Linked DNA regions of Homo sapiens. The protein of the gene in region 1 interacts with the protein of each later gene in a biochemical or structural test. Each region holds a gene or a part of one and is shown in the gene's direction. Other genes may lie near its edges.

Region 1 (6,951 bases):
CTCACTGTCTAACAAGGAGGATGCCTGGGATAAAGATTGGTTTCTCCATTTACCAGAGCTTTCTTTCATCATCATTATAACTGAGATCTTCGTCAGTTTTACACATGGCCTTTAATTAGGGCTGGATTCGAGTTGGCCATTTTGAAGGAAGTATGTATTGTTGAATGCAGTTCTAGTTGTTTGAATATTTCAGTGAATTTTATTTACTCATTTTTACTATTTGGCCCCTACTTTTCCAGTCCTCCTGGAAATTACTTATTTCTTCCTGCCATAATTACTTCCATGTCATTTTCCATTTCTAGCCTTAGACCTGTGGGTGTCTTTCTCAAAAAGGACAAGGTCTGTTGTTGTCTTCGCTATGTTCTCCAAAGACTGTTGGGGGAGGGAAGGGAAGGAGGGGCAAGGACTCCAGCCCCACAATTCTGTTACGGTTGAGTCAGCTCAGGGAACCACTAGGAGTGTAGTTGGGGACTGTTGTGACAGGGGAGTGTTTTTGTGTGCAAGCTCCCAGCAGTCTCCATGCCCAAGATAGTTCTGCCAGGGTAGGGGTACCAGAGAAATTGTGTGTGGGTGAGAAGACCCGGTGGGCACAAGGCCTCTTGCCTGTTCCTCACTTCTCAGGTCTCTGTTGGTGAGTCCTCCATGTGCTGTGGGTCTGCAGTGTGCTCTCTCGAGGTCCTGTCCCTCGAGCCCCTCAGAGACTGATTAAAGCAGCTGCATGGTTGGGATCTTGGGCAAACTTAAGTATATAAGAGCATTTTTCCAATAAATTGTATAGTTTATCCATGCTTTATAGAAATCCTGAAGCTTTAAAGGTGGGTATCTGAGAAATTTTCAAAAGAATTGCTTGCGTGGTTTAACTAGCTTGGCAGCGGGTCTTTCCCCCTAGACACTAATAGATGGCAGTGTTACTCTATAAAAGCTTTTCCTATGACAAAATGGTTCCCATCCAGAAGCAAGCATTCAGAAGGATGAAAATAATGATGTGTTCATTTTCAAACACCTTATATCTTATTGTAAACATCATTAAAGAGTGGTCTTTTCAAAGGTTGTGTGATTGAGCTGTGACTCTTCCATGAGAGTAAGTGCAAAGGCTCTTTGGAGAGATCATATAATCCAGCCTCTCTTCAGTTCCTGCAACACCCCCCATTTTGCAAATGAGGACCAGGACTTGCGGACAGTAGAAGGGGCATTGACTTGTTCAGGATCTCCAAGGGGCAGCTAGTGGCAGGTCTGAAACTAGTACTTAGATCTCCTGATTTCCAAGCTAGAGCCCATTTCCCTACTCTTCCCCCACTCTTAACTCCCCATCACCCAACAGCCCCTACTGTTTCAGCTTTTTTTCCCCCTTAAAAGTCCATGGTGTTTTGTTTCAGGATGTTTTGTTGTCTAGCACTCCTTTCCCTTTGACCATTATGTTTTTACAATTTTGGTTTCATCTCAGTTTACCATGGTTTAGAGTCTGGTTTTATCAATGTACAGTTACCCATGACTGGGATCCAGTGGACTTTGGGCCAGTGGCTGGGCAGCAGTTATTTCCTTGCTCGTTTTGCACTGTGGCACTGGCTGGATCAGCAGGCAGCCAGTCCTGCTGAGGCTTTGCCTCCTAGTCTCCTTTCCTTACTTTTCTTGCCAGCTCCATCCTCTTCCTATTGCCCTTAGTCTAACCACCATCTTCAAGTTTGTGTTTATCGTTTGCTTATATTTACAATTTTAACATATATATTTGTATTCCTGCACAATATTCTTTCAGTTTTTAGCCTGCTTTTGAACTTCATATAAATAGAATCAGATTTTTTATATTCATCCATGCTGTCATATATCATCCATGTGTTCATTTCATTCATTTTATTTCTATTACATTAATTGCTTTTTTCTGAAATTTTGCTTTTTACTATGGAACTATTTTTCAAATACAGTGAAAACTTGAGAGTCTGGTAGTGACTCCATATAACTCATCACCCAGTTATATAACAGCTTTTAACTTTTTGCCATAATCGTTTCATTGTCTTCTCTCTTTATGTTTTTTCATCATCCTCTCAACTATCCTATGATTTCACCCTAATACCAAACGCTTTACCTACTCCCAGGACTGATATTTCAGCAAGCTGGAAAGAAAGGAAAGTACAACAGGGCTCTGGGGGCCCTGGTCCCAAGCTGGAGTGAAGAAATGTGCCCTCTCAAAAGTATAGCCCCTCTAAAACCAAAGCCCCAGGCAAGCCAGAGATAAAGCCTTCCTCCAAAACAGTATTATGGGGCGTTTTCAGAGGCTGGCAGGTTAGAAAACAGCCGCTGCTTGCTCACTACAAGCTGTGCTTCTCCCTACTGCCCAGTCTAAGAAGCAGAGTCCTGGTGTTACAATGGGTTGCCCAAAGTGACTGCAGGGTAAGCTTCAGGATGATTGTTGAGCAAGGTGAGCTTTCTCCTGTGAGCAAGGAATTAGCCACAGACTGAACACTGTGGGGGACCTGTCTTTCTGGCTCACTCCTCACCCCTCCTCTTTTACAGTTGAGAGAACCAAGGAATGCGTTGGGCAGTATTCCTTCTTATACTCATGATAGCCATTTGACGTTCCAGGTTTATGTGTGTGTGTGGGTGGGTGCTTTCCCTTGGACTCCCCATCTCGAGTGGTCCTTGGGCTTTGTCTCTTGCCCCAGAACTCCTAGGCTGTGGCAACAATCAAAGCCTGAGCTCACTTGATCTAGCAGATGTCCTTTTGGCAAATCCCAGCTTCGGAAGCCTGCTTTAACCACTTCCATTTCCTGCTGTTTTTGGCTTCTGAGTATTCCTTCTTTTCTTGCTAGCACATCGATTGGTTAAAGAATTTTTTTGCAATAATTTGATCCAGAATTTTTATTCTCAGCAGAAGAGTCAATCAGGGACCTACCATCCCCCAGGTAGGTAGTGGAAAGACTGTGGCAGCCTTTGTTGTCTTTTGTAAAACTTAAGGCACTTTGTTTTTGCAGGATTAATCACTCCTGAAGATCGGAAATATGGAACAACAAATCTTCACTTAGATGTATCTGATGCAGCTAATGTCATGGTCTATGTGGGAATTCCCAAAGGACAGTGTGAGCAAGAAGAAGGTAGGGTGCTGAGCATAAAAGGAGGGCTTACTCTTTGAGCCAGGGCTTGTGGTCTGATATCTGCTTTCTCTTCTTGCTCTAGAAGTCCTTAAGACCATCCAAGATGGAGATTCTGACGAACTCACAATAAAGCGATTTATTGAAGGAAAAGAGAAGCCAGGAGCACTGTGGCACATATATGCTGCAAAGGACACGGAGAAGATAAGGGAATTTCTTAAAAAGGTGTGCTGCTTATGGCATGTGTGAACAGAGGCATAAGGAATAGCAATATTATGTTACTACATGTGGTGAACTGACTGGCTTGGCTAGGGGAATTGTCACAACCTGAAAAGTTAAATCTGTACCTGTCAGATTGAATAGGCTGAAGGTGGTTGCTAAGGAACAAGGATTCTAAATGATTAGGGTTACACTTCTAAAAAAAGCAGGCCTTGTCTTTTATGTCTGTGTTTTGTGTTAGAGTGCATTTAGAGATTTTTGTTCTCTGCTTTCAAGTTAGAAGTTAGTTCATCTGATCATCTCCCAGCATATATCTGTTTTTATTGCCTTGAGAATCTGAGCACTTCAGACGTTCATGTATCCTTGGCCCTGAGTGACCATGTTCTGAGTGAGTTGCTAAGTTTGGTTTTGTCCACTGTCATGTAGCAAGTGGTCCTACTTGTTACTAGCAAGGGTTGCAGGGATTTGGAAGATTCTAGGTTTCCCCTGTAGTTGGCAGGTTTTTTTTTCAGCAAGGGCTATGTGTGGAAATTCTAGGCAACTAGAAAGATGAGTCGTGTTCAGTTTTAAAATTGTTTGGCACTGAGGCTGCCGGTTGCAACTCAGGTGTCTTTGGCTGATATTCTTCAGTCATTCATGAGTCTTGGATATGAACATTCGTAACCTGTTAGCTGGCCCCAAGTATGTCTTTAACAAGCATTTGTTTGAATCAAAGTGTTTCTGGCTAAGGATCATTTGGCTCTTCCAGAAAACCGGCTTGGTCACCATATTGTTCTTTTGATATTGTCACTCTGAGTCTCTGCTTTACCAGTTACTGGATCAAGGATAAACAAGTCTAATCTGCAGCTGTCTTTGGGACTGTTTCGTAAGTCAGATTAAGTAAAGGCAGGTTTCTAATAACTTTAAAACAAGTTCATTTATAAGGATACTGAGCCTACTTATGTTTAAAAATCTAGACTAAAATATTGTTTAAATACAGTATTTACAAACTTATGCAGAGCCTGTCAGTCATGGTTTATGGGAACTGACATCACATTTTCTTCGTCATTCTTCTGTTGGTTCATTCAGCTGAAGTCTTTGATACTACTAGTCGTCTTCTGCCAATGGGGGCACTTAAGTTGAAGAAGGCCTGACATTTATGAACTGCCAACACTGTTTAGAGGAAAAAAATGGCTTATTGGGCCTTAGCATGTTACTGAGTTGCATAATATTTTGAATGTATTCTAGGTATCAGAAGAGCAAGGTCAAGAAAACCCAGCAGACCACGATCCTATTCATGATCAAAGCTGGTATTTAGACCGATCATTAAGAAAACGTCTTCATCAAGAGTATGGAGTTCAAGGCTGGGCTATTGTACAGTTTCTTGGGGATGTGGTGTTTATCCCGGCAGGAGCTCCACATCAGGCAAGAATCATTACTTTTTCTTTAATCTCTTTATGTCATGAACTTTTGGGTTTGTTACTGATATATTACTTGGTGTTTTTCAGGTTCATAACTTATATAGCTGCATCAAAGTGGCTGAAGATTTTGTTTCTCCAGAGCATGTTAAACACTGCTTCTGGCTTACTCAGGAATTCCGATATCTGTCACAGACTCATACCAATCACGAAGATAAATTACAGGTAAAAATAGCACCAATTCCTAGCATTCTTTGGCTATGGCTATGGCTTCATGGCCCATTCTTCACCTTATAAAGAGAGTCAGTGAACTTGGCCATATCGTACTTAGTACACAGTGAGTCGAGGAACTTGCTTTATATCTAGTACTACTATCTACTTAAGTGAGGGAGGAACAAGAGGAAATCTCACCTTGGTTTGATTTGATATTGTTTAGAATCTATAAGGGACTGTCCCCACAGAGAAAGGCCTTAGTACTGAAAATGAATAGATGTGACTTCTGATCTTGGCCCAGCTGCCTGTCGGGGTCTTGAACACAGTGCTTAACCTTCAGTGCTGCAGTGTTCTCATCACTCTTAGGTAGAGCAGAACTGAATCTCTGAGACTCAAAGAGGTCTGAGGGGGTGGTATTTTCAAAAGGATTTCAGTAATGAATTATGTAACATAATTTCATGTTTGGAAAATAAGGGAAAAATGATAAAAGCTGTACCTTGGAACTTGCCTCTCCCTGTACTCACTGTGAGTAGGTCTACGTGGTATCAAAACCTCTAAAAGGGGGAAAATGAGTTCTTGAAATCATGGGTTTAAAATGTATGTGAAATACTGGTCTGAAGGAGCCCAGGGACCTTTTGCAATGTTGACATTTCATACGAATATTGAATTTTAAATTCTGAGAGAAGGTAATAAAATTAGTAGGAGGAAGCTTATTCTTAGTGACAGGTTTTAGATTTAAATGTAAAATGCCCATATTTTCTCCTACTATTTTTAGGTGAAGAATGTTATCTACCATGCAGTGAAAGATGCAGTTGCTATGCTGAAAGCCAGTGAATCCAGTTTTGGCAAACCTTAATCTCCCTGCACATTGGAAATGAATTACAGGCAGCTGTTCAAACTCTTCAGGCAGGATTCCTGTGGACTTTGAGATTCATGTTACCTCATCTTCTTTTTTAAACTGTACCCAACTTGTGAGGGTACTCTGTCTAATGTATATTTCTAGTGTTTACAGACAGTAAATGTGTATATGTAGTAACTATTTACAGAACATGCATCCTTAAACTGTGACTTCTCACCTAGTGCAGAACTTTTACCAGGCTGTAAAAGCAAAACCTCGTATCAGCTCTGGAACAATACCTGCAGTTATTCTTCAGCTGTTTGGACAACTTAGATTGGGTTTATAACTATTAGGAATCACTGCACAGTTTATTTGGGTTGTGTTTTGTGTCTGAGTCCCCTCCCTCATCCCTTAGGGTCCAGAAGAGCAATGGAGGAAGTGACAGCTAATGTTGCAGTTCTTATTGTATGGCATAGGACTGGCATTATATAGCAGAAATCAACTACTGTACAATTTCTTGGGGTTAACCATCTTTAGTTAAATGGAATTTTAATTTAAATGACGCTTTGCTAATTTTAAGTGTTAAGCATTTTGCATTAAAATATTCATATAATATTTTGGCTCAGTTTATTGGCATTATCCTCTCATTGTGGTTTCAACACAACTTTCTTCAAATGCAGGTGTAATGGATTGCTCCAAGAACTCTTCTTAAAAGCAAAGAAATCAGATGCTATAGTGATTTTCTTAGTGATTATTACAAAGCTAACATGGAAATTTCTGCTCAGCCAGGTAGAAACCCTGTCACACTTTGTCAAGGAAACACCACCAATTAATTAAATTTAGAAACAGGAATTAACCAAGAAACCAAATAGTGCCAGGCTAAATGGTTCTAAAAAGGTAAGTAATGAAACACTTTGTTTTATGGCCCTTCATAATGTTAAGTTTATGAAGGAAAATGAAATTATAAGTTCTAGGACAGTACTACCTAAAATATTCATCTCTGTGAAGGAAAAAAATTCACAAAGAAGCGCCTTTCTTTAGCCCACTGATTCTCCTAGGCCACTCTTTCATTTAATTTCTTTAAAAAAAGGAATTAAACATAGAAATCAGATAGTACATAGACAAAGCCTAGAACCTGAGTTTTAATTTGTGAGCTGAGTAGGAGGCCAGAGGATCCGTATTAAATTTCAGAACCCATTGT
Region 2 (7,261 bases), on another chromosome or scaffold:
ACCTCCCGGACGGGGCGGCTGGCCGGGCGGGGGGCTGACCCCCCCACCTCCCTCCCGGACGGGGCGGCTGGCCGGGCAGAGGGGCTCCTCACTTCCCAGTAGGGGCGGCCGGGCAGAGGCGCCCCTCACCTCCCAGACGGGGCGGCTGGCCGGGCGGAGGGCTGACCCCCCCACCTCCCTCCCGGACGGGGCGGCTGGCCAGGCGGGGGGCTGACCCCCCCACCTCCCTCCCGGACGGGGTGACTGGCCGGGTGGGGGGGCTGACCCCCCCATCTCCCTCCCGGACGGGGTGGCTGGCCGGGCTGAGGGGCTCCTCACTTCCCAGTAGGGGCGGCCGGGCAGAGGCGCCCCTCACCTCCCAGACGGGGCGGCTGGCCCAGCGGAGGGCTGACCCCCCCACCTCCCTCCCGGACAGGGCGGCTGGCCGGGCGGGGGGCTGACCCCCCCACCTCCCTCCCGGACGGGGCGGCTGGCCGGGCAGAGGGGCTCCTCACTTCCCAGTAGGGGCGGCCGGGCAGAGGCGCCCCTCACCTCCCAGACGGGGCGGCTGGCCCAGCGGAGGGCTGACCCCCCCACCTCCCTCCCGGACAGGGCGGCTGGCCGGGCGGGGGGCTGACCCCCCCACCTCCCTCCCGGACGGGGCGGCTGGCCGGGCAGAGGGGCTCCTCACTTCCCAGTAGGGGCGGCCGGGCAGAGGCGCCCCTCACCTCCCAGACGGGGCGGCTGGCCGGGCGGAGGGCTGACCCCCCCACCTCCCTCCCGGACGGGGTGGCTGGCCGGGCTGAGGGGCTCCTCACTTCCCAGTAGGGGCGGCCGGGCAGAGGCGCCCCTCACCTCCCGGACGTGGCGGCTGGCCGGGCGGGGGGCTGACCCCCCCACCTCCCTCCCGGACGGCACGGCTGGCCAGGCGGGGGACTGACCCCCCACCTCCTCCCGGACGGGGCGGCTGGCCGGGCGGGGGGGCTGACCCCCCCCCACCTCCCTCCCGGACGGGGTGGCTGCCGGGCGGAGACGCTCCTCACTTCCCAGATGGGGTGGCTGCCGGGTGGAGAGGCTCCTCACTTCTCAGACGGGGCGGCTGCCGGGCGGAGGGGCTCCTCACTTCTCAGACGGGGTGGTTGCCAGGCAGAGGGTCTCCTCACTTCTCAGACGGGGCGGCCGGGCAGAGACGCTCCTCACCTCCCAGACGGGGTCTCGGCCGGGCAGAGGCGCTCCTCACATCCCAGATGGGGCGGCGGGGCAGAGGCGCTCCCCACATCTCAGACGATGGGCGGCCGGGCAGAGACGCTCCTCACTTCCTAGATGTGATGGCGGCTGGGAAGAGGCGCTCCTCACTTCCTAGATGGGATGGCGGCCGGGCGGAGACGCTCCTCACTTTCCAGACTGGGCAGCCAGGCAGAGGGGCTCCTCACATCCCAGACGATGGGCGGCCAGGCAGAGACACTCCTCACTTCCCAGACGGGGTGGCGGCCGGGCAGAGGCTGCAATCTCGGCACTTTGGGAGGCCAAGGCAGGCGGCTGCTCCTTGCCCTCGGGCCCCGCGGGGCCCGTCCGCTCCTCCAGCCGCTGCCTCCCGGGCGGCGCTCGCCGGCGCCGCGGCAAAGACTGAGACAGCTCCGCTGCCCGCTGAACTCCATCCTCCCGGCGGTCGGGCGGCGGCGGCTTCGGCCCATTTATTTATTTATTGAGACAGGGTCTTGCTCTGTTGCCCAGGCTGGAGTTTAGTGGGGTGATCACAGCTCACTGTAGCCTGGAACTCCTGGGCCCAAGTGATCCTCCTGCCTCAACCTCCCAAGTAGCTGGGACTACAGACAGGCATCACCATACCTGGCTTTTTTTCTTTTTCTTTTTTTTTTTTTTGGTAGAGATGGGGTCTTGCCATGTTGCCCAACCTGGTCTCTAACTTCTAGTTTCAACCCACCCTCCCGTTTGGCCTACGAAAGTAAGTGCTTCTTGTTTAATTTTTTAAAGATTACTGTTTAAAAAATTGTTTTTCTTTTATTTAGGTCTTTTTACCTCAAAGTGCCAGTGAGATAGTGGGTGTGGAATTGCTAAGAAAAAGTCAAATCAACTGAGATGTTATGTTTATTTGTTATTCCTATCACATGACTCTCAATATCTCCTGTGGTGCTGGAGTATTGACACTGTGGCATTACATGCTCTCTTCTATGGCGAACAGTTTTGGCAGGAGGGAGACAGCCAGCCCTCTGCCCTTCCTACCATCTTCTGTGCAGGAATCTTAAAGTTTATATTTATTTTCCTGTAAATACCGAACTGTGAAAACTTGTTTCATTTGAAAACCCTCATTACTAGAGAGACAAAGTAAATTTAACAAAGACCAGGTGTGGTGGTTCAGGCCTGTAATCCCAACACTTTGGGTAGCTGAGGCAGGGGGATCACTTGAGCTTAGGAGTTCGAGACCAGCCTGGGCAACATGGTGAAACCCCATCTTTACTAAAAATACAAAAGTTAGCTGGGTGTGGTGGCATATGCCTGTAGTCCCAGCTACTTGGGAGGCTGAGGTAGGAGGATCGCTTGAACTTGGGAGGTTGAGGCTGCAGTGACCTGAGATCATGCCATTGTACTCAGTCTGGGGGACAGAGTGAGACCTAGTCTCAAAAAGAAAAAAAAAAAAAAAAAGAAAAAACCTCTCACACAGCAAATTATACAGCCCACATAAGGACCAAGGAATGACTCAATCTTCTCAACCTTTTAGGGATGCTTTTCCCTTAGTTGCTAACCTTTGACCAGACTGTCATGTAGACTCAAAGTTGAAATTTACCCGTTTTTCCTAAGTCAGTTTGAAAATTTGGTTGCCAGAAGGGGCCAGTGAGATGCTTCTGCTTTCCCAGAGCAGCATTTAGCCCACACTGGCTGCTACTCATTGCCTGTTGAGTCATTCCCACAGTTCTATATAGAGCTTTTCTGGCTTTTCTTTTAAACATGATGTTCTTGGAGTGAGAAAGGAAGGAAGTTTTTCTCTCTTGTACTGAGTCTCCCTCACCCCAAATTTGCATTGCTTCTCTTTACTAATAACAAAATATTGCCTTCAGTCATTCTGAGACTATTTTCTCTCTTAAGGTCTCCTACTGCTTTTATTTACCATTTGTTTACTATGTAAGCATTAAGGTATTCGCTGGGCTATTGGCAGCAGCCAGCTTTCACATACAGGCTGATAGTTAACGAGAAAGATTGAAGAATTCTAGATAAACACACCAAACATGGATTCTTAGTTTCCAACTTTAAAAAATTCAGTCAGATAGACTGAAAGTAATCTTAATATCATTGTTATGAATATCAGTTAATGAAAGGTGCTGTGGGGAGCAGTGGCTCATGCCTGTAATCCCAGCACTTTGTGAGGCTAAGGTGGGCAGATCGCTTGAGCCTAGGAGTTTGAGACCAGCTACTCAGGAGGCTGAGGTGGGAGGAGCACTTGAGCCTGGAAGGTCGAGGTTGCAGTAAGCCACATTTGCACCACTGCATTCCAGTCTGGGCAACGGAGTGAGACCCTGTCTCAAACATACAAAAAAAGTAAATGAAATCAAATAACATCAGTATACTGTCTATTCACAGACCGTATGTCTAATATAGGCACAAGTAAGAGGCTCTTTTAGGGGACTGACAGATCTGAAAGACAGATTACAGCTCTGGAATGTATTCAGATGACTTTTTGAAACAGATATTTTAATTGGAGTGGGGGTGGAGAAATAGTTGAGCTTCTGTAGTTAAATGTTCAACTTCCTTAGCCTGTTATCTATAAATACCACATATAAAAAAGCCGTTGGAATTCTTTTTCAGAAAATTTATGGAGCTTACATTTTGTATATATGTGTTTATATGTGTTTAATCTTCTTCCCCACCTCTCATCAATGGGTCAGTAATTGGACTGCTTCTTTCATGAGCTTGAGTTGTTTGGATTGTGTTTAATCTGTTCCACTAAACTGCATTAACAGCAGTCTCTTATAGTGGGATTTTGAACAAAACCTCATCTTCTCTTCTTGAGAGGAAAAAAGCAGTTGATCTGTTTTCTGAAAGTCTCTTTATATATGTCTCTCCCCTCCCCCAGAGACGAATAGCAAGGGGAGGAGCTTGCTCACTGTTCTAACCACACTTAGTATGTCTTAACTGGAGAGCTTTTTGGTTTCCTGTCGGCAGTAATTCAAATCTGTGTCATCTTGACTCGCCTGAAGGGTGGATAAATTGGTAACTGCACTGAGAAGGGGATATTCTCACAGTCTGATTTGAGCATAAGGCATCAGATTGAATTTGTGAAAGCTTTCAAGACAGCTTTTCTCCTGTGACTTTGACTTTCTTCATTATATTTGTGGATTTTTGTTTCTGGAAGAATCCGTCATGACTCTACTGGAACCTGAGATGTTAATGATGGCAGTACAGTCAGGTAATTCACATAAATCCTAATTTCCTAACTTGCTAATAATTTCCTACAAATCTTATTTGCCACAGGCTTCTTTAAAAAAAATGGGTCATATTTGTACTAGGAGTGGACAGAAATGGGGAGGAAGAAATGTACTGCATTTTCAGTTTTTTATTAATTTTTCTCTCATTGCAAATTCTAGTTATTCTGACAGCTTTGAATTAGATGGTTACTGGTTTTAAGATTATTCAGTTGCGGAGACCTGTTTGAGAAAAAAAACTCTTTGTCTTCTTTAATCAAGTGTTGTATTGTCTGTGGCACTGTTTTAAATGAAAGACAATTAAATTGCTTTGCTGTTTTATACATTGTTGTCTTTAATCACTAGTCTAGACTCTATGTTTTTATGAAAGCATCTTTAAATTTTTTTTCTTAGCTGTTCTTTCTTGTTTGTGGTATAACCTTTCTGTACCATCTTTTGGTTCTGTGGAAATGCCCTTAATAACACATAGGATTAGGACTAAATTTTGGAGATGGGTAAGTTTGAGCAAAGAGTCAGTCAACACAGGGGAGGATTTTTGAAATTTTATCTCTAAAAACAGTTTTCCAATTCAGAGTTTTTAAAACCCTTTTAAAAATATAGTTAGTTTTCAGTGGTTTCTTTTACTTTTAGTGTTTTTACACTTGGAAGTCAGATATCTAAAAATAGGGAATGTTCTTTTGCTATTTTTAGATCTCTACTAAAATGTAATCTGTAGTGTTTTCTTGTTTCAGAGCATATCTTAAAAGATTCAGACAAGTGGCATTTGGGGACCTCTTCCCCATCCACTGGCTTTCACTCAAAGGAAAATAAGACTTCTTGGTTCTGGCAGATACTGTCTCTGGCAGAATTGGTCTCACTGTTTTCCTTGGGGAGCATTTTAGGTAGTATGTTGAAAGACAGATATACATCAGTTGAAGACAGGATCAGATGCTATCTGGTTAATAAAGCTTATGATCAGGGAAGGGGCAAAGAAGACAGATACCACTACCATTTTGTTCTTTCTGGTTTTACTAATATGACCATAATGAGTCATTTTTTATGCATATAGGCTATGTGTTTCAGGTTGCCTTTCCTTTTCCTCCTACAGATCTATTGAGCTTTGTGTTCTAAACAAGATAGTGTGCTTATCTGAATGTTTCCCATCTGTCTTTGATGAAAAAGCTCCCAGTTAAACTAATTTGGATTTATTTATTTTTCCTGTCTATTCCAGTTCTCTGCTATGTGTGGGCAAGTGCCTGTTTTATCTTGAGGGGTAGATTTTAGCATTTGAACTCTCTCCCTTTTTAAAATCACCTTGTTACTTACAGATCATCTCAGTCCAGTAACTTTTCTTTATAAAGGTTAAAAGATTGTTTGCTTTCTTCTCAGGTAGTCTCAGTGTTCTCAGCCTTGAGAGGGAAAGGGACATACTTAATATTTTCTTGTCTTGCTTGCTAAGAGCTGTTTTTCCTTCGTCATGTGTTGGGCAGGGCTAGCCACCCATCTGTTGGACCAGCTACTTCATAAAACTTTCAAAGGATGATAGTAGGTGAAATGAAATTGACAAGAGTGTTGGATGCAGGTAGAATGAAGGGTCTGCTGTAGCGTGTATGTGGACTTCTTTCTTTTGTTTATGTTCGTAAAAGTGGAGAGACTCTGGATATAGAAAGGGTAATAGCAAACTGATATCTCCAGTACCTGTCTCCTATATGATCAAAAACATTAACAATGTGTTGGTTTTGTAAAATTGCTACTGTTTTGTTCTGAAGTGCTGTAGCCATTAGCTGGATTGTAACAGTAATATGACAGCTGTATAGTAAAATACTGTCTCTCTTTATGATAGGAAATGAAAAAGCATCTGTTATGAAGCCTCAGTGAACTAAAAGCCATTCTCTGAAAAGTCAAGACTTTTGGGCTTTATCAGTAGATAAACATGAGCCATAGGTTTTCTAGCAATAGAATATTTTAACCTATATGAATATATGCTTTATAGGTGAGACTGCTATTTAATGAGAGTTTTAAAGTAACTAAACCTTGTTGACAGAATTCAGGATGGAAAGTTTTACCCTAAATAAAACTTCAGGATATTGAATATGATAGCAAAGTTCCAGGGTATGTTTTATATTTATGAACAATTTTCATTTGAATATTTGGAGCTTGGGGGTTTTGGTGAGACATGTTCATGTATGTTATATACAAACTTTCAGGCCTGGCATGGTGGCTCACACCTGTAATCCCAACACTTCAGGAGGCTGAGGCAGGAGGATCGCTTAAGCCCAAGAGTTCAAGACCCATCTCTACAAAAAATTAAAAAAAAAAAAAAAAAAAAAAAGCCAGGTATGATGGTGCCCACCTGTAGTCAGAGCTACTTGGGAAGCTGAGGTGGGAGGATCGATTGAGCCCAGGAGGTCGAGGCTGCAACAAGCTATGATCATGCCATTCTACTCCAACTGGGGCGACAGAGCAAGATTCTGTCTCAAAAAATAAAACTTTCATCCTCCTCACTGCTGGTGGTCTCTTACTGGTCCTTTGGAACCAGCCAGATGTATATGTCTTCCTAATTAGATTATTAGCTTCTCAAGGGCAATATATTAATCTATATATTGGCTTCTGATACTGGCACATGGTACTTAGTATTTTTGAATGAATGAGAGTGATGAAATTTGGATTGTCATACTTTCCCTGATAAGTATAAGCTTTTAAATCAAGATTTTATCGAAGTATTTTGAGATCTGTTCTTATATTAAGAAATGAATCTTCTACCCACCATCCTGTATTTTAGCCAATCCTTGTCCAAAGCAGATGTTGTTGAAAAATAGCTTTCAAAGTTGGAATTCTTCTGCATCTCAGAATGTGCAGTATGTCAT
Region 3 (7,534 bases), on another chromosome or scaffold:
TTGGCACGCGCCTTCAGCCGCTTCCCATCCTTCCTTAAGGCCAAGGTGATCCGTGACAAGCGCACAGGCAAGACCAAGGGCTACGGCTTCGTCAGCTTCAAGGACCCCAGCGACTACGTGCGCGCCATGCGTGAGATGAATGGTGGGTGCGGCCTCCCCTGGGAACTGCAGGCGCGGCAGGCGCTGGCCTAAGCCTGACCCGAGCCTGCCTTGAACCCTCTGTCTCCACAGGGAAGTATGTGGGCTCGCGCCCCATCAAGCTTCGCAAGAGCATGTGGAAGGACCGGAATCTGGACGTGGTCCGCAAGAAGCAGAAGGAAAAGAAGAAGCTGGGCCTGAGATAGGGTCTGTGGCCAGGCACCCGCTCCCACCTGGCCGGGCGCTGGCTCCTCCCTCAGTTCTCTTTGGAAAACCCCCAGCTGTCCACCCATCCCCTGCCCCAAAACCAGTTTCAATAAATTTACGTTCATTTCCACCCCTGGCTGGGCATGGAAGCACGCTGTGGGGAGCAGGGCTTGGCTTCCCCACAGCTGGAAATGGCGGGGAGCCTTGAGAGTTTACCCAGGCAAACACCCAGGCGGGGGCTTCTGAGCCCTTCCTGCGCACCCATTCCCTCTTCAAACCTCTTCCACACATGCTGAGTGCTGCTTATTCCAGAGGAGAAAGGGGGGCCAATGGCAAGGGTGAAGCCAAGCTGAGGCCCATCCCCGTGTCCTGGCTACTTCCTGTGTTCTCAGCACCAAGGTAGGAGATCTAGGCCCTTCCCTTCTGGAGCTCACAGGCTTCTAGGCCCTCTTCCATCCAGCAGACTCTCACCAAGGGTCTGAACAGTGCTTGAGGACACAATGGTGACTAAAAGTCCTGGGCCCTGCACCGTTAGAGCTCAAGGTCCAGTGCAGAAAATAGGCCCGGTGCCCTGACGATAAGAGCCCAGAGTGGTCAGGGCAGGATGGGGGCGCTGACCTGTGGGTGAGGGGGCCCTTCCTGAAGGAACCGTCCACCCCCAAGTCTCCTCTGGGGCTTTCCAGCTTCTCCAGTCTGCCATGCCCAGCCAGCTCACCATGCTCTAAGTCTCGGTGGGCACCTCTATCTCTGTCTCTGTGGGTACCCCTCCATTTCTTGTCTCTAAGCTTCTATATCCCTGTTGGTCTCTGTTCTCTCCCTTGGAGCTGGGAAATGAAAAAGGAGGAGAGACCCACAGATAGAGAGAACAGAGACTTGGGGTCTGTTCCCCTCTCTTCCCAGCTCCAAGCTGGCCTCTGCCTGTCTGAAGAGGTGTCTGTGCAGGGCCTTGAATGCCAGGCTGAGGGCTTAAGCTTTACGCAGAAGGCAGCAGCAAGCCCCAAAAAGCTGAGAAAATTCAAGCAGCAGCAAGGTCCTGGGCAGCACAGATGTGCGCTGTAGAAAGGGCCCTGTGACCGGCTGGGTGCGGTGGCGCACGCCTGTAATCCCAGCACTTTGGGAGGCAGGCAGATCACTTGAGGTCACGAGTTCGAGACCAGCCTGGCCAACATAGTGAAACCCTGTGCCTACTGAAAAATACAAAAATTAGTTGGGCGTGGTGGCGGGCACATGTAGTCCCAGCTACTTGGGAGGGCTGAGGCAGGAGAATCGCTTGAACCTGGTAAAAGGAGGTTGCAGTGAGCTGAGATCGCGCCACTGCACTCCAGCCTTAGTGACAGAGTGAGATTCTGTCTCAAAAAAAAAAAAAAAAAAACGCCCTGCGACCACCACTGTGGCTGGAAGTCTAGAAGGCTGGGGCAGGGACTGGGCCAGAGGAGGGAGATGGCAGGTTTGAGTATGGGGAGGAGTGGAGGGTCTCCCAGGGACACAGCCATCGGAACCCTCCATTAGGAGGGAGCAGGTTGGGCAGGACTTTGTGGGGCATAAGTCGGGGGATGGACAATACCAAGGCCTCTCAGGGACCGAGGTCCCCCAGGAGAGGTGTCGAATTTCTCCTGTTCCTGTCTTCCCCGCCTTACTGCCCCCTCTCTGACGTCACATTTTCCAGTCTGGTCAGAGGGTGAGAGCCTCCCTGGCAGGAAGTGCCCTTTAGCCCCCTGCCACCTGGGCCAGACCACCCAGCCCCAGGATCCTCAAAGCCCCTTCCCCCCATCACTAGTCTTTTCTACCCCTGACCCCCCTTGTACTGACAGCAAGCATAGGGTCACGGGAGGAGATGGGAAGAGAGGATGGCTCCAGAAAGGACGCTTCCAAATGCATGTGATTCTCACTTCCAAGTGGGAGCAGAACAGCAGGTACACGTGGACATGCAGAGTGGGGTAACAGGCACTGCAGACTCCAAAAGGTGGGAGCGTGGGGGAAGCTGAACAGTTACCAGTTGGGTACGTTGCTCACCATTCGGGTGCACTAAAGGCCCAGGCCAGTATACTGGATATACTGACATATATCCAGTAAGGAATCTGCACTTGTACCCCCTAAATGTTTATCTTTTTTTTTAATGCACACAAGTCTTCCTGAGAACAAGAAGAGACACACACACATAGAATGTGGCAAGCAGAGGTAGAGATGGCGCTGTGAGCAGGAGGCTCAGAGGCAGAGATGAGAACCATCAGAGACTGTGCAGTGGGAAGGGGGACGGGGAGAAAACCAAGAGACAGATGGAGACGGACAAGGAGATGAGATAGGAACACTCAAAGACAGATGGGGAGGGACAGAGATGTCAGAAGAGACCAGGTGACAAAGCCTCACTGGAGTCAGGCCCGTGGCAACAGAGACCCAGCTTTAGATATGCCAACCTGAAGAAAGAGGGCAGAGAGACATGGAGAGACAGACAAGAGGCCAGCTTCAAGGATGGGAAGCCAGGACTCCCTTCAGGCCTCCGCGCTGGACGGATAGAGGGACCAGTGATGCTCCAGGGCTCTGTGGCTTACCCCACACTGATTCCAATCCCAGTCCCACTCCCACTCCATGGGACCCCCGGTTTACTTTACTGTAAAATGGAAGGAGGAGCAATGCCACCCGCTCTCCAGAACGGCAAGTAGTTAATGATCAAGAGGCTGGGCTGGGGACTGGAAGATGCCGATATGCAAAAGTTATTTTTAATGGTAAATATTACATACTTATTAAAATACAGCAGGATGGCTGGGCACGGTGGTGGCTCATGCTTCTAATTACAGCACTAAGGCTAAGGCAGGTGGATAGCTTGAGGCCAGGAGTTTGAGACCAGCCTGGCCAACATGGCAAAACCCCATCTCTACTAAAAATGCAAAAATTAGCCTAGGCATGGTGGCTCACGCCTGTAATCCCAGCACTTTGGGAGACCGAGGCAAGTGGATCACTTGAGGTCAGGAGTTCGAGACCAGCCTGGCCAACATGGCAAAACCCCATCTCTACTAAAAATGCAAAAAATTAGCCGGGCATGGTGGTGCTTGCCTGTAATCCCAGCTACTTGGAAGGCTGAGGCACCAGAATTGCTTGAACCCGGGAGGCAGAGGTTGCAGTGAGCTGAGATCGCACCACTGCACTCCAGCCTGGGCGACAGAGTGAGACTCCATCTCGAAAAATATTTTATATATATATAGGACACCCAGTTATTGAATTTTACGTGAACAATTTTATAGTTTAGGTATGTCCTAAATATTTCATGTATGTATGTATATGTTACATGTATAGCTGTGGTTTTTTGTTGTTTTTTGCTGAATTATTTGAGCAAGTTACAGACTTTTTTTTTGTTGTTTCTTTTTTTGAGATGAAGTTTCGCTCTTGTTCCCCAGGCTGGAGTGCAATGGCATGATCTTGGCTCACTGCAACCTCCATCTCCCTGGTTCAAGCAATTCTCCTGCCTCAGCCTCCCGAGTAGCTGGGATTACAAGCACCCGCCACCACGCCTGGCTAATTTTTTGTATTTTTAGTAGAGACAGGGTTTCACCATGTTGGACAGGCTGATCTAGAACTCCTGACCTCAGATGATCCACCCGCCTCAGCCTCCCAAAGTGCTGGGATTACAGGCGTGAATCACCGCGCCCAACCACAAGTTACAGACATTATAACATTTCATCTCTGAGTTCATTTTCTAAATGATATCTTTCCTCCTGAATACCATTATCAAATCTAAGAAAAGAATTCTATGATATTTCATATTCAGTTCATACTCCAGTTTCCCCAATTGTCCTAAACTATTACAGCGCGGAAGGGCATGGGGTCTGGAGAAGGAGAGCAGTGGGAGGATGCCTGCCTTACCTTCCCCCTTCATCAAATGAGAGTATGTATTGTACTTGCCTCATAGAAGGATTCAATGAAGGGGTATGGCACAGTTGGTTTCACACAATGAGCCCTCATTTAATGTTGGCCGTTATTGCTACTATTGTTATTGTTGAAATTGTTGATGTCAATATTGCTATGATTGGCACTCCTGGGAAGCAGCCCCAGGACGCCCTCCCTACTGGGCCTGGTGGAGGATTGGGTGGGCCTTCACTCCTGCTCCACGCCCCCGCAGTTACTCTGCCGATTGTGACGTCAGCTGACGCTGGGGGCGGGTGGGGGAATCTGGCCGGAAATCCCTCTTCCTGTTGCAGATAAGCCCAGCTTAGCCCAGCTGACCCCAGACCCTCTCCCCTCACTCCCCCCATGTCGCAGGATCGAGACCCTGAGGCAGACAGCCCGTTCACCAAGCCCCCCGCCCCGCCCCCATCACCCCGTAAACTTCTCCCAGCCTCCGCCCTGCCCTCACCCAGCCCGCTGTTCCCCAAGCCTCGCTCCAAGCCCACGCCACCCCTGCAGCAGGGCAGCCCCAGAGGCCAGCACCTATCCCCGAGGCTGGGGTCGAGGCTCGGCCCCGCCCCTGCCTCTGCAACTTGAGCCTGGCTGCGACCCCTGCTCTGACGTCTCGGAAAATTCCCCCTTGCCCAGGCCCTTGGGGGAGGGGGTGCATGGTATGAAATGGGGCTGAGACCCCCGGCTGGGGGCAGAGGAACCCGCCAGAGGTGAGCGATGAACTGAGGACTAGATGCCTGGGTGTCTGGGTTAGGAAGGACCTGGGGGACTAGACTCCCAAGAAGCCGGGGGCCTGGACTCCTGGGTCTAACAGAGGAAGAGAGCTGGGGTCCCTCACTCCCAGGACCAAGATTTTAGGCTCCTGGGGAAGGAGGGAGCGGAGGCCTGGACTCCTGGCTCTGAGGGAAGCTAGGGCTGGGGCCCAGACTCCAGGGCCTCCAAGTGTCACCAGCTCACCCATTGCCATCTGGACTTTTCCCGACCCAGAACATTCAGAAGGCCTTCATCGCATCCATGGACCTGTGGAACTGGGATGAGGCATCCCCACAGGAAGTGCCTCCAGGGAACAAGCTGGCAGGGCTTGGTAGGCTGCCGAGGCTGCCACAACGTGTGTGGGGAGGGTGTCCAGGTGGGGCCTCTGCTGACCCTAACCCCTTATCGCCTGCAGAAGGAGCCAAATTAGGCTTCTGTTTCCCTGATCTGGCACTCCAAGGGGACACGCCGACAGCGACAGCAGAGACATGCTGGAAAGGTGGCTGCGGGCTGGGACCCCTAAGTGCTGGAGAAGAAGCGGGGAGGCTGGGATCCTAGGGCAAAGGGAGGAGGGGGGCGTGCCTAGGTTCCTGGGACTGGGTGGGGAGGGGCCGCGTGCTTGACCCCTGAGGGTGAAGGAAAAGGGGGCGCGGGGTGCTGAAATACGGGCTGGGGGGCCATAACTCCCAGTCCCTGACAAGTAGAGACTAGAGAGTGGGTAGTTGAGGGGTCTCTTTCATTGCTCACAGTCCTCCCTAAACTCAGGTACAAGCTCATCCCTGGCAAGCTTCCCACAGCTGGACTGGGGCTCCGCGTTACTGCACCCAGAAGTTCCATGGGGGGCGGGTGAGTGTGGGGAGAGGCGGTGGGAGGTGGGGACTGGGGTCCCGAGGCACCGGGGCTAGAGGTGTAGACTCCCTGATCTTTGAGGACTGAGAACACCTGCGCCCTCAAGGTGGCATGACCTGGATCCGGGTCAGCCGGGCCCCAAGTGCCAGGGTTGAGAGCTTAGACCCTAGAGTTTTTGAGGGGGCACCTGGGCTCCCCTCACTCGGGATCCGTTACTCCTCACAGAGCCCGACTCTCAGGCTCTTCCGTGGTCCGGGGACTGGACAGACATGGCGTGCACAGCCTGGGACTCTTGGAGCGGCGCCTCGCAGACCCTGGGCCCCGCCCCTCTCGGCCCGGGCCCCATCCCCGCCGCCGGCTCCGAAGGCGCCGCGGGCCAGAACTGCGTCCCCGTGGCGGGAGAGGCCACCTCGTGGTCGCGCGCCCAGGCCGCCGGGAGCAACACCAGCTGGGACTGTTCTGTGGGGCCCGACGGCGATACCTACTGGGGCAGTGGCCTGGGCGGGGAGCCGCGCACGGACTGTACCATTTCGTGGGGCGGGCCCGCGGGCCCGGACTGTACCACCTCCTGGAACCCGGGGCTGCATGCGGGTGGCACCACCTCTTTGAAGCGGTACCAGAGCTCAGCTCTCACCGTTTGCTCCGAACCGAGCCCGCAGTCGGACCGTGCCAGTTTGGCTCGATGCCCCAAAACTAACCACCGAGGTGAGAGGGCCGCAAAGACTGCGGGGAGGGCGAAGCTGGAGTCCTGAGCCGGGACCCAGGCACCTAAGGGGGCGGGGCCCGGGAGACTGACAGTGAGGGGGCGGGGGCTTAGGGACCAGGGGCTCGAAGGAGGGGCCGGTGGCCCGCACTCCAGGTCCTTGGGGAGGAGAGGGCTAAGAAACTGGTAGTCTTATAGGGACCAAGGGGATGAGGACCCAGGCTCCTGGATTATATAAAACGAAAGCGATAAAGGCCCAGATTCCTGGGTCTCCGAGATGGGGAGGCCAAACTCCTAAATCTCTGAGACTGGGGCCCTGGACGCTTGAGTCTCCAAGGCTGACTGTTGGATCTCAGAGAAGGGGGGGCGGATCCCCTTCTCGGGTCCTGGGTCCCGAGTTGGGAGGACCCGGACCTCTAGATCATTGAAGTGGTGTGATCTAGGGCCGGGAAGACTGAGTGTGCCCCTCCCTTCATCCCGCAGGTCCCATTCAGCTGTGGCAGTTCCTCCTGGAGCTGCTCCACGACGGGGCGCGTAGCAGCTGCATCCGTTGGACTGGCAACAGCCGCGAGTTCCAGCTGTGCGACCCCAAAGAGGTGGGGCAGCTCCCCTGCCCAGCCAAATCCGCCCCGTCTCTTCTAGTTCAATTTAGCTCCGCCCAAGGGCTAGGTTCAACCGCGTAGCCCTCGGCCCCGCCGCTCCCCGGCCCACTCGAGGCCCCGCCCAACCCTTCTCAAACCCAATCTCCCGCCTGTACTCCTGCCTCAACCAACCCAGTCTCCACCGGGCTCTGCGAGGCCTCGCCCAGGTCTGCACTGCACACCGCCCCCAGGCCCGGCCCTCCCCACTATCGCCAAGCCCCGCCCCTTCCCACTCCGACCGAGCGGGCCTCTGTCCTAGGTGGCTCGGCTGTGGGGCGAGCGCAAGAGAAAGCCGGGCATGAATTACGAGAAGCTGAGCCGGGGCCTTCGCTACTACTATCGCCGCGACATC

The links.
Region 2: the proteins of KDM3A (region 1) and MRTFA form a complex in vitro, tested with the Homo sapiens proteins (one study listed by BioGRID).
Region 3: the proteins of KDM3A (region 1) and ETV2 form a complex in vitro, tested with the Homo sapiens proteins (one study listed by BioGRID).

Annotation. Positions count from the first base shown.
Region 1 is NC_000002.12:86,486,352-86,493,302, forward strand, and holds the end of KDM3A (lysine-specific demethylase 3A), read left to right. Parts: intron 1-2,966; coding exon 2,967-3,086; intron 3,087-3,168; coding exon 3,169-3,308; intron 3,309-4,529; coding exon 4,530-4,706; intron 4,707-4,789; coding exon 4,790-4,924; intron 4,925-5,687; coding exon 5,688-5,768; 3' UTR 5,769-6,365; downstream 6,366-6,951. UniProt on the Homo sapiens protein: Histone demethylase that specifically demethylates 'Lys-9' of histone H3, thereby playing a central role in histone code.
Region 2 is NC_000022.11:40,530,728-40,537,988, reverse strand, and holds the start of MRTFA (myocardin-related transcription factor A), read left to right. Parts: upstream 1-4,161; 5' UTR 4,162-4,353; coding exon 4,354-4,399; intron 4,400-7,261. UniProt on the Homo sapiens protein: Transcription coactivator that associates with the serum response factor (SRF) transcription factor to control expression of genes regulating the cytoskeleton during development, morphogenesis and cell migration.
Region 3 is NC_000019.10:35,637,211-35,644,744, forward strand, and holds the start of ETV2 (ETS translocation variant 2), read left to right. Parts: upstream 1-4,534; 5' UTR 4,535-4,946; intron 4,947-5,223; 5' UTR 5,224-5,250; coding exon 5,251-5,320; coding exon of another isoform or gene 5,321-5,404; coding exon 5,405-5,488; intron 5,489-5,738; exon of another isoform or gene 5,739-5,754; coding exon 5,755-5,835; intron 5,836-6,063; coding exon 6,064-6,543; intron 6,544-7,024; coding exon 7,025-7,137; intron 7,138-7,441; coding exon 7,442-7,534. Other genes in the region: RBM42 (RNA-binding protein 42), read left to right, coding at 1-142, 232-344.